4 separate regions of the Homo sapiens genome follow, and all the other regions are linked to region 1. Evidence: fine-mapped expression QTL. A gene starts in region 1. Each other region holds a variant in brackets. All regions are shown on one strand. Distances are from middle to middle.

Region 1 (2,500 bases):
CAACAGGCGCCACAGCACCTCTGCTTTCCCAAGACTTTGTCCACGCTCTCCACGCTCCATCCCGAGCTTAGTGAGGGGCAGGACTGTGTCTACTGTGTCAGTGGGAAGCTGCTTTGGAGCATGTGCCCCTTGGTGAAAACCCTGTGGATAGGACGTGATCTCATCTTCTGGGATTCTCCAGCAATGACGGGGAGTTTGTGGAAACTTGACTTGGGAGAACCTGCTTGCAGGCATACGGCAGTGGCCAGCCCCCAACCTAGAGTCAACCCTCCTTCCAGATCTTCCCAGGAGGTCCCAGTCCTCAGAATTCCCTCCAAGCCCCGCCGGGAATAAAAACCAGGCAGTAACGGGTGTGCAGAAAACCTATACATCCAACCTAACTTGGCTGAAGAAGACACCCTCCCCCCCGCCGTCTGTGCTCCGGTGTCTCGGTGACTCAGGGTGCCCACCTTCACGGCTGACCTGCTCATTCCCGGGGGCCCCTGCGGCTGTGCCGTTCCCTCAGGTCACACTGGCTTGGGTCCTTAGAGCACCCTTGGGTCCAGGTGCCCTGGGCCACCTCCCATTAGTTAGGGACCGCATCCGTGGGGACAGAAACTTCCATCTCACTGAACCTATACACAGGAGCCAGGCTGGGCTTGGAGGTCACCAGCCGCCTGGGAGTGGACCCGGAGAGGCTGAGTGCGGCCCTCCCTCTCAGACGGCAGACCCCGAACCTCCACCCAGAATCCGAGCCCGGACACGGCCAGCAGGGAGCTAGGAGATGAAGTCCAGCCCTGGCTGCCCGGCTCCTCTGGGAGGGCAGCGAACCCGCGGGAGCGCATGAGCGGCCTCTCCCGGGGGGGCGGTAGGAGCGCGTCCCCTCCAGGGCGCTTTGGGATCGGGCTGCTCCGGGCCAGTGCTCGCGCTGGGGACCTGCGACGCCTCAGCCCCTGCCCAGACTGCGCCGCCCGCCGCGGCCACACCTCCCAGTCCCTGGGAAAGTCCCCGCCGCCGGCGCGAACCCACCTTCCGGGAGCCCAGGGGCCCTGCTGGGGACTCGCCGGTGTCCCCGCCGCCTCCTCCTGCGCGGGTCCGCGCTGCCCGGCCTCAGCTCAGGGCTCCCGCCTCGCCTCCCCGAGCTCCGGTGAATTCTCGGCGCTGCTCCTTTCGGAAAGGACTTTTTTTTTCCCCCTGCGTTGCGTCAGGGCGGTTGCCTGGCGACGGCCGAGCTCTCCGCCGCGAGCCTTTCACCGCGATCCCGGCCTCGCGTTCTCGCCCCGGGTCCGAGCGCGCCCCGGGTCCTAGCGCCCTGTCGGTTCACCGGCCCGGGCAGCCCCCGCGAGTGGAGAGGAACTACATGCCTTCGCCAAACCCCAGATGAAACCAAACCCAAACATCCATTTTCTCATTAAACCCGAAACCAAGGCAGTTTCCCCCAATTGTGGCAACGTGACTGCGCCACTGTCAGAAGTTTGTCCGCATGGAGGGCGCAGGGGGACCCCACGCCCAGGGCCTCACCCACCCCCAAACGGCAGGAGTTCATAGGACCCGCGGCCACGACTGCCCGCGAGCGCCTACCGTGGGCCACGCCCCCCAACGACCCAGCAGGGCAAGTGTAGGCATCTCTGGCTGCCAGATGAGGAAACTGAGGTGCAAAGACGCGAGCGTTTGCCCCACTAACCACAGGGTGTCTGTCCCGCCAGGGGCGCGGCATCGGCCACCTCTGGCTGTCGTTAGATTCTAAGACCCAGTCCCTGCTGCATCAGAGCCCAGAGCTGCAAACCCTAAGGCACAGGCAGGACAGCAGCCCGAGCTGCCCGGACCGCAGGTCTTCAGGACCAGTCCCAGCTTCTGACGAGGGGCCCAGGCCAGACACTGGAGGCCCCAAGGCTGGTTACTGGATGGGGGTCTCTTACCCCAGACCTCATCAAGCACCTTTCCTAGATGCCCGGGGCTGGAAGCGTCTTTCAAAGGGCTCCAGTCTGCCATTCTCACGATAGCCCTGGGCGTGCGCGCAGGCGCCGCCTACATGGCCAGACGCGAAGCTGAGTGGTGGGGCTGCAAAGTGACTGGCGCAGGCTCCAGGCAGGTGCGCGGCTGGTCGGGCCTTCTGTGGGGTCTTAGCCCCTGCAGGGGCCCGAGACACTCGTGCTGCCCTCTGGTGCCCGCGTCCTTCACTGCAACTCCGCATCCAGCCCTGACCTACTCCCTTCCTTTCTGACCTTCACTGGAAGGTCCTCTGAGGGACGTCGTCTAAGGAGACATCTTGCCAGTACAGACCTAGTCATGCTAATGAGGGAACGGTCCTAAGCTAGCGGGTGTATTAACAAGCATCTTTTGGAGAGTCACAGCCTTGATCCAGATCTTCTGATTCCAGCTCCTAAACATCACTCCTTCCTTCTTCCTGCCCGCTGCCACTGTCCCTACCCAAGCCACCAGCAGCTTGCCCTACCCAGTTCTGGGACCTGCCACCCGGGTCCAAGCGTGCACGCAGTCTCCATACTGATCTCCCTTTACC
Region 2 (2,739 bases), 50 kb before region 1:
CAAGTGAAGCTTTATTCCCGGTGGTGGCAGCAGGCAGAGGTGTGGACAGACCTCTTGAGAATCACCAGCTTTCCATAGCCGTTCCAGCTACAGCGGTGCAAAAAAGGCCCCCTGCTGAGCTGGGTGAAATCCGGGCGACTTTGGGGATGAGCTCTGTGAGTCACCTCTTCTCACAGCCTCTTCCCGGACACTGCCTGTCCCCGCCCTTCTAAGGGTTCTGTGAACCCTTAGTTCCTGAATCAGGTCCTTTCCTTCATGGAAGACTGAGGGGGCTTCCACTTTATTGACCAAACCCAGACTGGTGCAGAGGCGACAGGTTGGAGACGCATTTGTCCTGCTCCAGGCCCAGGTACCCCTCCCAGATGAGGCCGAGAGTGCAGTGGGTGGGGGAGCAGAGGTGAGCTCCCTGAAAGCCCTCCCTCCAGGCCTAGGCCAGGACCACCTGGGTGGGTGAGTCTCCGGGAGCGAGCCAAGGAGTGTGGCTTGTCATCTCTAACTCAGGTTTCCCTTGGGACTCTGGCTGTTCTTTAGCAAATGCCCCTTAGCTTCAGTAGTCTTTGCATGGAGAAGGGAGTAAGAGAATGAGCAGTGCAGGGCTTTCTGTTTAACAAATGGCTCAGGAAATACCCTACTGTCCTGCAAAGCTGCACCAAGCCTCACTTTCCTCGTAACCATCTTGCAGGCGGGAATGTTCCTGGCAGCGAGTGGTGGATGACGGATTCTTACAGCCTGCAAACACCTTCATTTTTTTATGATTAAAAAATAAAAAATAGACAAGGGTGGGGCATGGTGGCTCATTCCTGTAATCCCAGCACTTTGGGAGGCCGAGGCAGGCAGATCACTTGAGGTCAAGAGTTTCAGACCAAGCTGGCCAACATGGTGAAACTCCATCCCTACAAAAATACAAAAATTAGCCAGCTGTGGCAGTGCACACCTGTA[G/C]TCCCAGCTACTCAGGAGGCTGACGCAGGAGGATTGCTTGAACCCATGAGGCAGAGGTTGCAGTGAGCTGAGATCCTACCACTGCACTCCAGCCTGGGCAACAGAGCCAGACTCTGTCTCAAAAAAACAAACAAAAAGAGATGAGGTCTCTCTGTGTTACCCAGGCTGGTCTTGAACTGCTGGGCTCAAGCAATCCTTCCATGTCAGCCTCCCAAAGTTCTGGGATTACAGGCATGAGCCACCATGCCTAGCTAAAACACCTTTTTTCCCTTTTAATTTTTAAAAAATTGATGTATAATAATTGTACATATTTATGGGGTATATAGTGATGTTTCTGTGCATTCCGTGTCTAGTGATCAAATCAGGGTAATTAATATCCATCACGTCAAGCATGTATCCTCAAAGAAATGATAAATGTTCCAACGCATCTGAGGTTTCTCTTCCTTAATCAATTTCCTTTGGAGACCGCCTAGCTGTCTCCCTTGCTGTTTGCTTTGAGCCTGTGAACGGGGTACTTAAAAACAGCCCTGTCTGAAACCTTCAATCTGCTGAGCAGCTCCCATCAGATAGGGTCTGGTTACCACAGGCCTGTCTGCTCTGGTCACTGCCAACTTCCTCCTCTTCTGCCTGCCTCCTTCCCCAAGTCGTCTAGGCCACAGACTTCAGGCTTAGACATGGAGAAGGAGCCAGTGGGAAGTGCTTCTGGTCTTGTTGAGAAGTCAAAAGGGTGTGTGTAAACGGAGTTTACACCCTTTCCAAACATAAGAGAGACGAGATCTCTGGGAGGCCAAGGAAGCCACAGTTTGACGTCACCAGCCATGGGTCAGGGCACCTGGCCACGCTCAGCAGGGCACCAGCAGCTAATGTGGCAGCAGGCCGAGTCTCTGAATGAAGAAGCCACACCACATCTGAACTGTCGCTCCCCCTCTCCCCATACTCTGGTCTCCACCTGTTCAGTCTTGATCTCTCCTGGACTCACCCTAGCAACCCCCAGGTCACGTGGAGACCACTGGCCATGCACCTACCTCCAGCTCCGTTGGCTCTCCCGGCCCGTTTCCTCTCGTCGTCCTTCCCTCCTGACTCAGTCTAACACTAACATTGCTCCTTTGCAAAAAACATTCACTTTTGCTGTTTCCGTTCTCTGTCACCTGCTTGGCAAATCCTATCTCCCACTGTCTGCCTGGTCTTTGTCTGTATTGGAACTTCTAAATATTGCTGAAAAAATCAATCACTCCACCAGGCTTGCTGGACACACCCCACATTTATGACCACAGCCTCAAATGGGCAATCCCGCCACCAGACCAGACGGTCCATCTTCGCTTTCCTAATTAACTCACCCGTTCTCAGGTAATTATTTGAAAAATGTCTTTGCAAACCTCCAATATCCCACCTCCTCCGACTCACTTCCCTATTTCACAGACAAATAGGAGCGACCTCACGGGCTCCCTTCCTCTGTGCCACTGATTTGTTATTGAAAAGGGGTCCTGATCCAGACCCCAAGGGAGGGTTCTTGGATCTCGCACAAGAGAGAATTTGGGGTGAATCCACAGAGTAAAGTGAAAGCACATTTATGAAGAAAGAAAGAAAAGAATGGCTGCTCCACAGGCGGGGGCTGCTTGAATGGGCATATTTCTAGTTATTTCTTGATCATATGCTAAACAAGGGATAGATTATTCATGGATTTTCTGGGAAAGGGGTGGGGAAATCCTGGAATGGAACAGAGGGTTCCTGCCCTTTTTAGACCATGTAGGGTAACTTCTGGCCTTTGCCTGTGGCATTTGTAAACTGTCACGGGGCTGG
Region 3 (2,742 bases), 42 kb before region 1:
GGGTGAATTTGAGACAATACTTAGAGGACAGCAACAGCACGTGAGACAGGCACATCTGACATGCCTAATTTCCCCCAAGGCCCTTGCGGGACAGCCTTCTGCAAAAATGACAGCTTTGTTGGGGGGCCTCCCTTTGGGAATCCCAGTTCATAGCACCAGTGATTCCAGGAAACAGGAACGTGACCGTGGAGGGATGGATTATGGTGGGAACCCAGGTCTCCTTTAACATCTTGGTTGGAGCGGCCCTTCTGCAGAGCTCTTTGGGTAGTAAGCAAGAGCCAGTCACAGAGACACTGGCATCCACACCCAGGGCCCCTGGGTGGGAGAGCACCACTGAATAGGTCCTGGGGCCCTTGAGTCGCCAGTCCCAGGGACCCCTGCCTCCGGGAGACCCACTGGAGTAACTTGGCCTCAGCTTCCTCTGACACCCCTCCAGCCCAAGCCCTCCGCTCCAGCCCCTCCGCCCAGTCTGAGGGCTCCTCAGCAGAGAGAGAACCTCCGAGAGTTGATGTTCATCTTGGTCACGCCAATAAGCTTGAGTGGTGTGGAGAGGCTGAAGGAGGAGGCAAGAGGGGAGTCACAGAAGAGGTCGGCCAGCTCATCCCGCTCCTCCAGCTCGTAGGTGGCATCGTTGAGCATCCTCCTGTGGAGGCGGCAGGTGTGTTCGATTTTCAGCTTGTTGATGTCGCCACGCAGGCGCATGAGCTGTCTGGCCAGTTGCTGGTCCTGCAGCCGCATCTCCGTCTGGAAGGGAGGGGGAGCAGGCAGGGTCAGCAGAGAGTGGCTCGAGTCCCTGACAGGCACAGACTGGTTAGCAGGGCCCTGACTAATGTCTTAGTTCATTAAGTGGTCCATCTAGAAATATTAGCACTTTCCCTGCTCAGGGAGGTGAAAAGACACAGAAAGCAAGGTGACAAATGAGGGTGCGGTCGCAAAACAATACTTTGTGCTAGGCTAGTTGCTGTATCTAAGTCCTTCTGAAAGACATGCATATTGGTCCTGGCTAGAAGATACTTCCAGTGCTTTCTCATTGTTTAGAGTTTCATTTAGATGGAGTAAGAGTATAAAGGAAAACATAGGGTAACAGCTATCAAATTCAGGAGGATGGTTGCCTCTAGGTGAGAAGGAGGGACTGTGATTGGGAAAGGTATATGGGGGCTTTGACTGTGATGGCCATGTTTTCTTTCTTACGCTGGGGAGTGTCATGTTGTTACATTACTCTTTAAACGTTTTAGAATGCCTGAAATATTTCTTAGTAAAGTTTCAAAACAGCCAAACAAAAATTGGTTCCTAGGTACTGGGTGTTTTATTATGAAACAGTTCTAAGGCCTTTGGGTCTATTAACATGCAACAGTTAACCGTCACTACAACCTGTGAAGTGATGTCACCATCATCACCCACAGCTTATAGAGGAGGACACAGAGGCACAGCCAGGGAATTAGCTGTGTCGGCTCACAAAGCTCATCCACAGCCGAGCTGGGATGAGGAAGC[C/T]GGACAGCTGGACTCCAGAACCAAAATGACTGACAATGAAGTTCTGCTGCTCAAGGACGAGCTGCAGTGTGGTGTATGGAGCTAGCAGAGTGCTTAGTGACCTTGTAGAAGGTTCCTAATATTTTTAGTGGCTTGATGTTTCCTATTGATGTGTAAACACAAGGTAAAATCCTAAGCCCCCCAACTGACTGAACAAGCCCGCTCTTCATCAAGAGGACCCCAGAGAAGCCTGAAAACTGAATTCCCAGCCGTGATGGGAATGGAGTTCAGACATGCTTTGTTATACCCCCCCTTGCTGTTGGAGTTTAGGCACAGCAGATCGGCATTAACATTGAAATAGAGATATAAGACTGACAAAACAGACTCTTTGTGGCAGTAAGGTAGCAAATTCCTGCCTCTGGTATAGCGTCACATAACAGGTAGCAAACCCTGAAGAAAATAAAAATATTTTACCCTGAAGTATATTTCTTTGACATATTTTGAAATGGCCCTGCAAAACCATCTCTTGTGGGAGATACTTACATCTGTAGAGCATTTCCATTAATGCAATCAAGCCTTCCCTTTCTAGGCCTTTCCAAGATCTAGGAGAGATTAAATGAGAGTCTGGCAAATTTAAGGTCTGAAAAGAGATATTTACCATCTATTTTCTCTAAAGGCTTCTACCTGGAGGCTTCATCTACATAACAAGAACCTTGGCCTCCACAACTGTCCTTTGTCTTAAGCATTTCTTTCTACTGACTTCAAGTCTTTAGGCAAAACTTAACTCTTTCAATCAACTGGCAATAAAAATATCTTTGAATCTACCTAAGACCTGTAAGCACCCCCACCCTCCAAGCCCCTTCAAGATATCCCACCTGTTTAGGCTGAACCAAGGTATACCTTCTGTGTATTGAGTTATGTCTTTGCTTGTAACTCCTGTCTCTCTGAAATGTGTAAAACCAAACAGTAACTGGACCACCTAGGGCGAGCTTTCTCAGGACCTCATGAGACTGTTCCCTGGCCCATGGTCACTTACACTGGCTCAGAATAAACCTCTTTAAGTATTTTACAGAGTTTGTTTTCTTCTGTTAACAAAGAGATGTGATAATTATTTCTCACCTGGCTTCACACTCCCAGTTTCCCAAACCCACTGTAAACCAAAAGTGTCTGAGACAGGTGTCAACAATTTAGAAAGTTTATTTTGCCGACGTTAAGGATGCACACCTGGGAGGCAGGTCTATGCCTTTCCTCAAAGATGATTTTGAGGGCCTT
Region 4 (2,742 bases), 63 kb before region 1:
GGCCTCCCAAAGTGCTGGGATTACAGGCGTGAGCCACCGCGCCCGGCCTCACCCACTTTTTGATGGGGTCGTTTGTTTTCTTCTTGTAAATTTGTTTGAGTTCATTGTAGATTCTGGATATTAGCCCTTTGTCAGATGAGTAGGTTGTGAAAATTTTCTCCCATTCTGTGGGTTGCCTGTTCACTCTGATGGTGGTTTCTTTTGCTGTGCAGAAGCTCTTGAGTTTAATTAGATCCCATTTGTCAATTTTGGCTTTTGTTGCCATTGCTTTTGGTGTTTTAGACATGAAGTCCTTGCCCATGCCTATGTCCTGAATGGTATTGCCTAGGTTTTTTCTAGGATTTTTATGGTTTTAAGTCTAACATGTAAGTCTTTAATCCATCTTGAATTAATTTTTGTATAAGGTGTAAGGAAGGGATCCAGTTTCAGCTTTCTACATATGGCTAGCCAGTTTTCCCAGCACCATTTATTAAATAGGGAATCCCCATTGCTTGTTTTTGTCATGTTTGTCAAAGATCAGATGGTTGTAGATAAGCGGCATTATTTCTGAGGGCTCTGTTCTGTTCCATTGGTCTATATCTCTGTTTTGGTACCAGTACCATGCTGTTTTGGTGACTGTAGCCTTGTAGTATAGTTTGAAGTCAGGTAGTGTGATGCCTCCAGCTTTGTTCTTTTGGCTTAGGATTGACTTGGCAATCCAGGCTCTTTTTTGGTTCCATATGAACTTTAAAGTAGTTTTTTCCAATTCTGTGAAGAAAGTCATTGGTAACTTGATGGGGATGGCATTGAATCTATAAATTACCTTGGGCAGTATGGCCATTTTCACGATATTGATTCTTCCCACCCATGAGCATTGAATGTTCTTCCATTTGTTTGTATCCTCTTTTATTTCATTGAGCAGAGGTTTGTAGTTCTCCTTGAAGAGGTCATTCACATCCCTTGTAAGTTGGATTCCTAGGTATTTTATTCTCTTTGAAGCAATTGTGAATGGGAGTTCACTCATGATTTGGCTCTCTGTTTGTCTGTTATTGGTGTATAAGAATGCTTGTGATTTTTGCACACTGATTTTGGATCCTGAGACTTTGCTGAAGTTGCCTGTCAGCTTGAGATTTTGGGCTGAGACGATGGGGTTGTCTAGATATACAATCATGTCATCTGCAAACAGGGACAATTTGACTTCCTCTTTTCCTAATTGAATGCCCTTTATTTCCTTCTCCTGCCTGATTGCCCTGGCCAGAACTTCCAACACTATGTTGAATAGGAGTGGTGAGAGAGGGCATCCCTGTCTTGTGCCAGTTTTCAAAGGGAATGCTTCCAGTTTTTGTCCATTCAGTATGATATTGGCTGTGGGTTTGTCATAGATAGCTCTTATTATTTTGAGATACGTCCCAACAATACCTAATTTATTGAGAGTTTTTAGCATGAAGCGTTGTTGAATTTTGTCAAAGCCCTTTTCTGCACCTATTGAGATAATCATGTGGTTTTTGTCTTTGGTTTTGTTTATATGCTGGATTACATTTATTGATTTTCGTATGTTGAACCAGCCTTGCATCCCAGGGATGAAGCCCACTTGATCATGGTGGATAAGCTTTTTGATGTGCTGCTGGATT[C/T]GGTTTGCCAGTATTTCATTGAGGATTTTTGCATCAATGTTCATCAAGGATATGGGTCTAAAATTCTCTTTTTTTGTTGTGTCTCTGCCAGGCTTTGGTATCAGGATGATGCTGGCCTCATAAAATGAGTTAGGGAGGATTCCCTCTTTTTCTACTGATTGGAATAGTTTCAGAAGGAATGGTACCAGCTCCTCCTTGTACTTCTGGTAGAATTCGGCTGTGAATTCATCTGGTCCTGGACTCTTTTTGGTTGGTAAGCTATTAATTATTGCTTCAATTTCAGAGCTTGTTATTGGCCTATTCAGAGATTCAACTTCTTCCTGGTTTAGTCTTGGGAGAGTGTATGTGTCAAGGAGTTTATCCATTTCTTCTAGATTTTCTAGTTTATTTGCGTAGAGCTGTTTATAGTATTGTCTGATGGTAGTTTGTACTTCTGTGAGATCGGTGGTGATATCCCCTTTGTCATTTTGTATTGCGTCTATTTGATTCTTCTCTCTTTTCTTCTTTATTAGTCTTGCTAGTGGTCTATCAATTTTGTTGATCTTTTCAAAAAACCAGCTCCTGGATTCATTAATTTTTTGAAGGGTTTTTTGTGTCTCCATTTCCTTCAGTTCTGCTCTGATATTAGTTATTTCTTGCCTTCTGCTAGCTTTTGAATGTGTTTGCTCTTGCTTCTCTAGTTCTTTTAATTGTGATGTTAGGGTGTCAATTTTAGATCTTTCCTGCTTTCTCTTGTGGGCATTTAGTGCTATAAATTTCCCTCTACACACTGCTTTGAATGTGTCCCAGACATTCTGGTATGTTGTGTCTTTGTTCTCGTTGGTTTCAAAGAACATCTTTATTTCTGCCTTCATTTCGTTATGTCTCCAGTAGTCATTCAGGAGCAGGTTGTTCAGTTTCCATGTAGTTGAGCGCTTTTGAGTGCGTTTCTTAATCCTGAGTTCTAGCTTGATTGCACTGTGGTCTGATAGACAGTTTGTTATAATTTCTGTTCTTTTACACTTCCTGAGGAGAGCTTTACTTCCAACTATGTGGTCAATTTTGGAATAGGTGTGGTGTGGTGCTGAAAAAAATGTATATTCTGTTGATTTGGGGTAGAGAGTTCTGTAGATGTCTATTAGGTCTGCTTGGT

Which allele goes with the higher level. Positions count from the first base shown, and alleles are read on the strand shown. Sizes are in standard deviations (SD) of each study's normalised expression. Not every link is listed here.
For the expression in thyroid of the gene that starts at base 1,136 in region 1, allele T in region 4 goes with a lower level than allele C (small effect, 0.36 SD a copy in GTEx).

The links. PIP is the estimated chance that this variant, and not a neighbour inherited with it, causes the effect.
Region 2: its variant is the best candidate, but not a certain one, in a credible set for the expression of FAM167A in whole blood (INTERVAL, PIP 0.54).
Region 3: its variant is the best candidate, but not a certain one, in a credible set for the expression of FAM167A in unexposed skin (GTEx, PIP 0.50).
Region 4: its variant is the best candidate, but not a certain one, in a credible set for the expression of FAM167A in thyroid (GTEx, PIP 0.71).

The regions. Positions count from the first base shown.
Region 1 is chr8:11,465,618-11,468,117 of GRCh38, forward strand. FAM167A (family with sequence similarity 167 member A) reads right to left here and starts at 1,136. Exons shown (of 3, transcript NM_053279.3): 1 at 1,009-1,136. RefSeq lists a silencer at 844-1,053 and an enhancer at 2,299-2,500.
Region 2 is chr8:11,415,193-11,417,931 of GRCh38, forward strand. The region is part of intron 3 of FAM167A-AS1 (FAM167A antisense RNA 1); the gene reads left to right. Among named protein-coding and RNA genes, the nearest start is that of FAM167A-AS1, 48 kb to the left of the region's middle. RefSeq lists enhancers at 1,298-1,799, 1,647-1,876, 1,800-2,299. The variant G/C (reference allele first, on the strand shown) is at 940.
Region 3 is chr8:11,423,893-11,426,634 of GRCh38, forward strand. FAM167A (family with sequence similarity 167 member A) reads right to left here. Exons shown (of 3, transcript NM_053279.3): 3 at 1-744. The coding sequence ends at 481. The region is part of intron 3 of FAM167A-AS1 (FAM167A antisense RNA 1); the gene reads left to right. Among named protein-coding and RNA genes, the nearest start is that of FAM167A, 41 kb to the right of the region's middle. RefSeq lists enhancers at 633-1,176, 1,177-1,719 and a silencer at 1,609-1,800. The variant C/T (reference allele first, on the strand shown) is at 1,492.
Region 4 is chr8:11,402,840-11,405,581 of GRCh38, forward strand. All of the region lies in intron 3 of FAM167A-AS1 (FAM167A antisense RNA 1), which reads left to right. Among named protein-coding and RNA genes, the nearest start is that of FAM167A-AS1, 36 kb to the left of the region's middle. The variant C/T (reference allele first, on the strand shown) is at 1,611.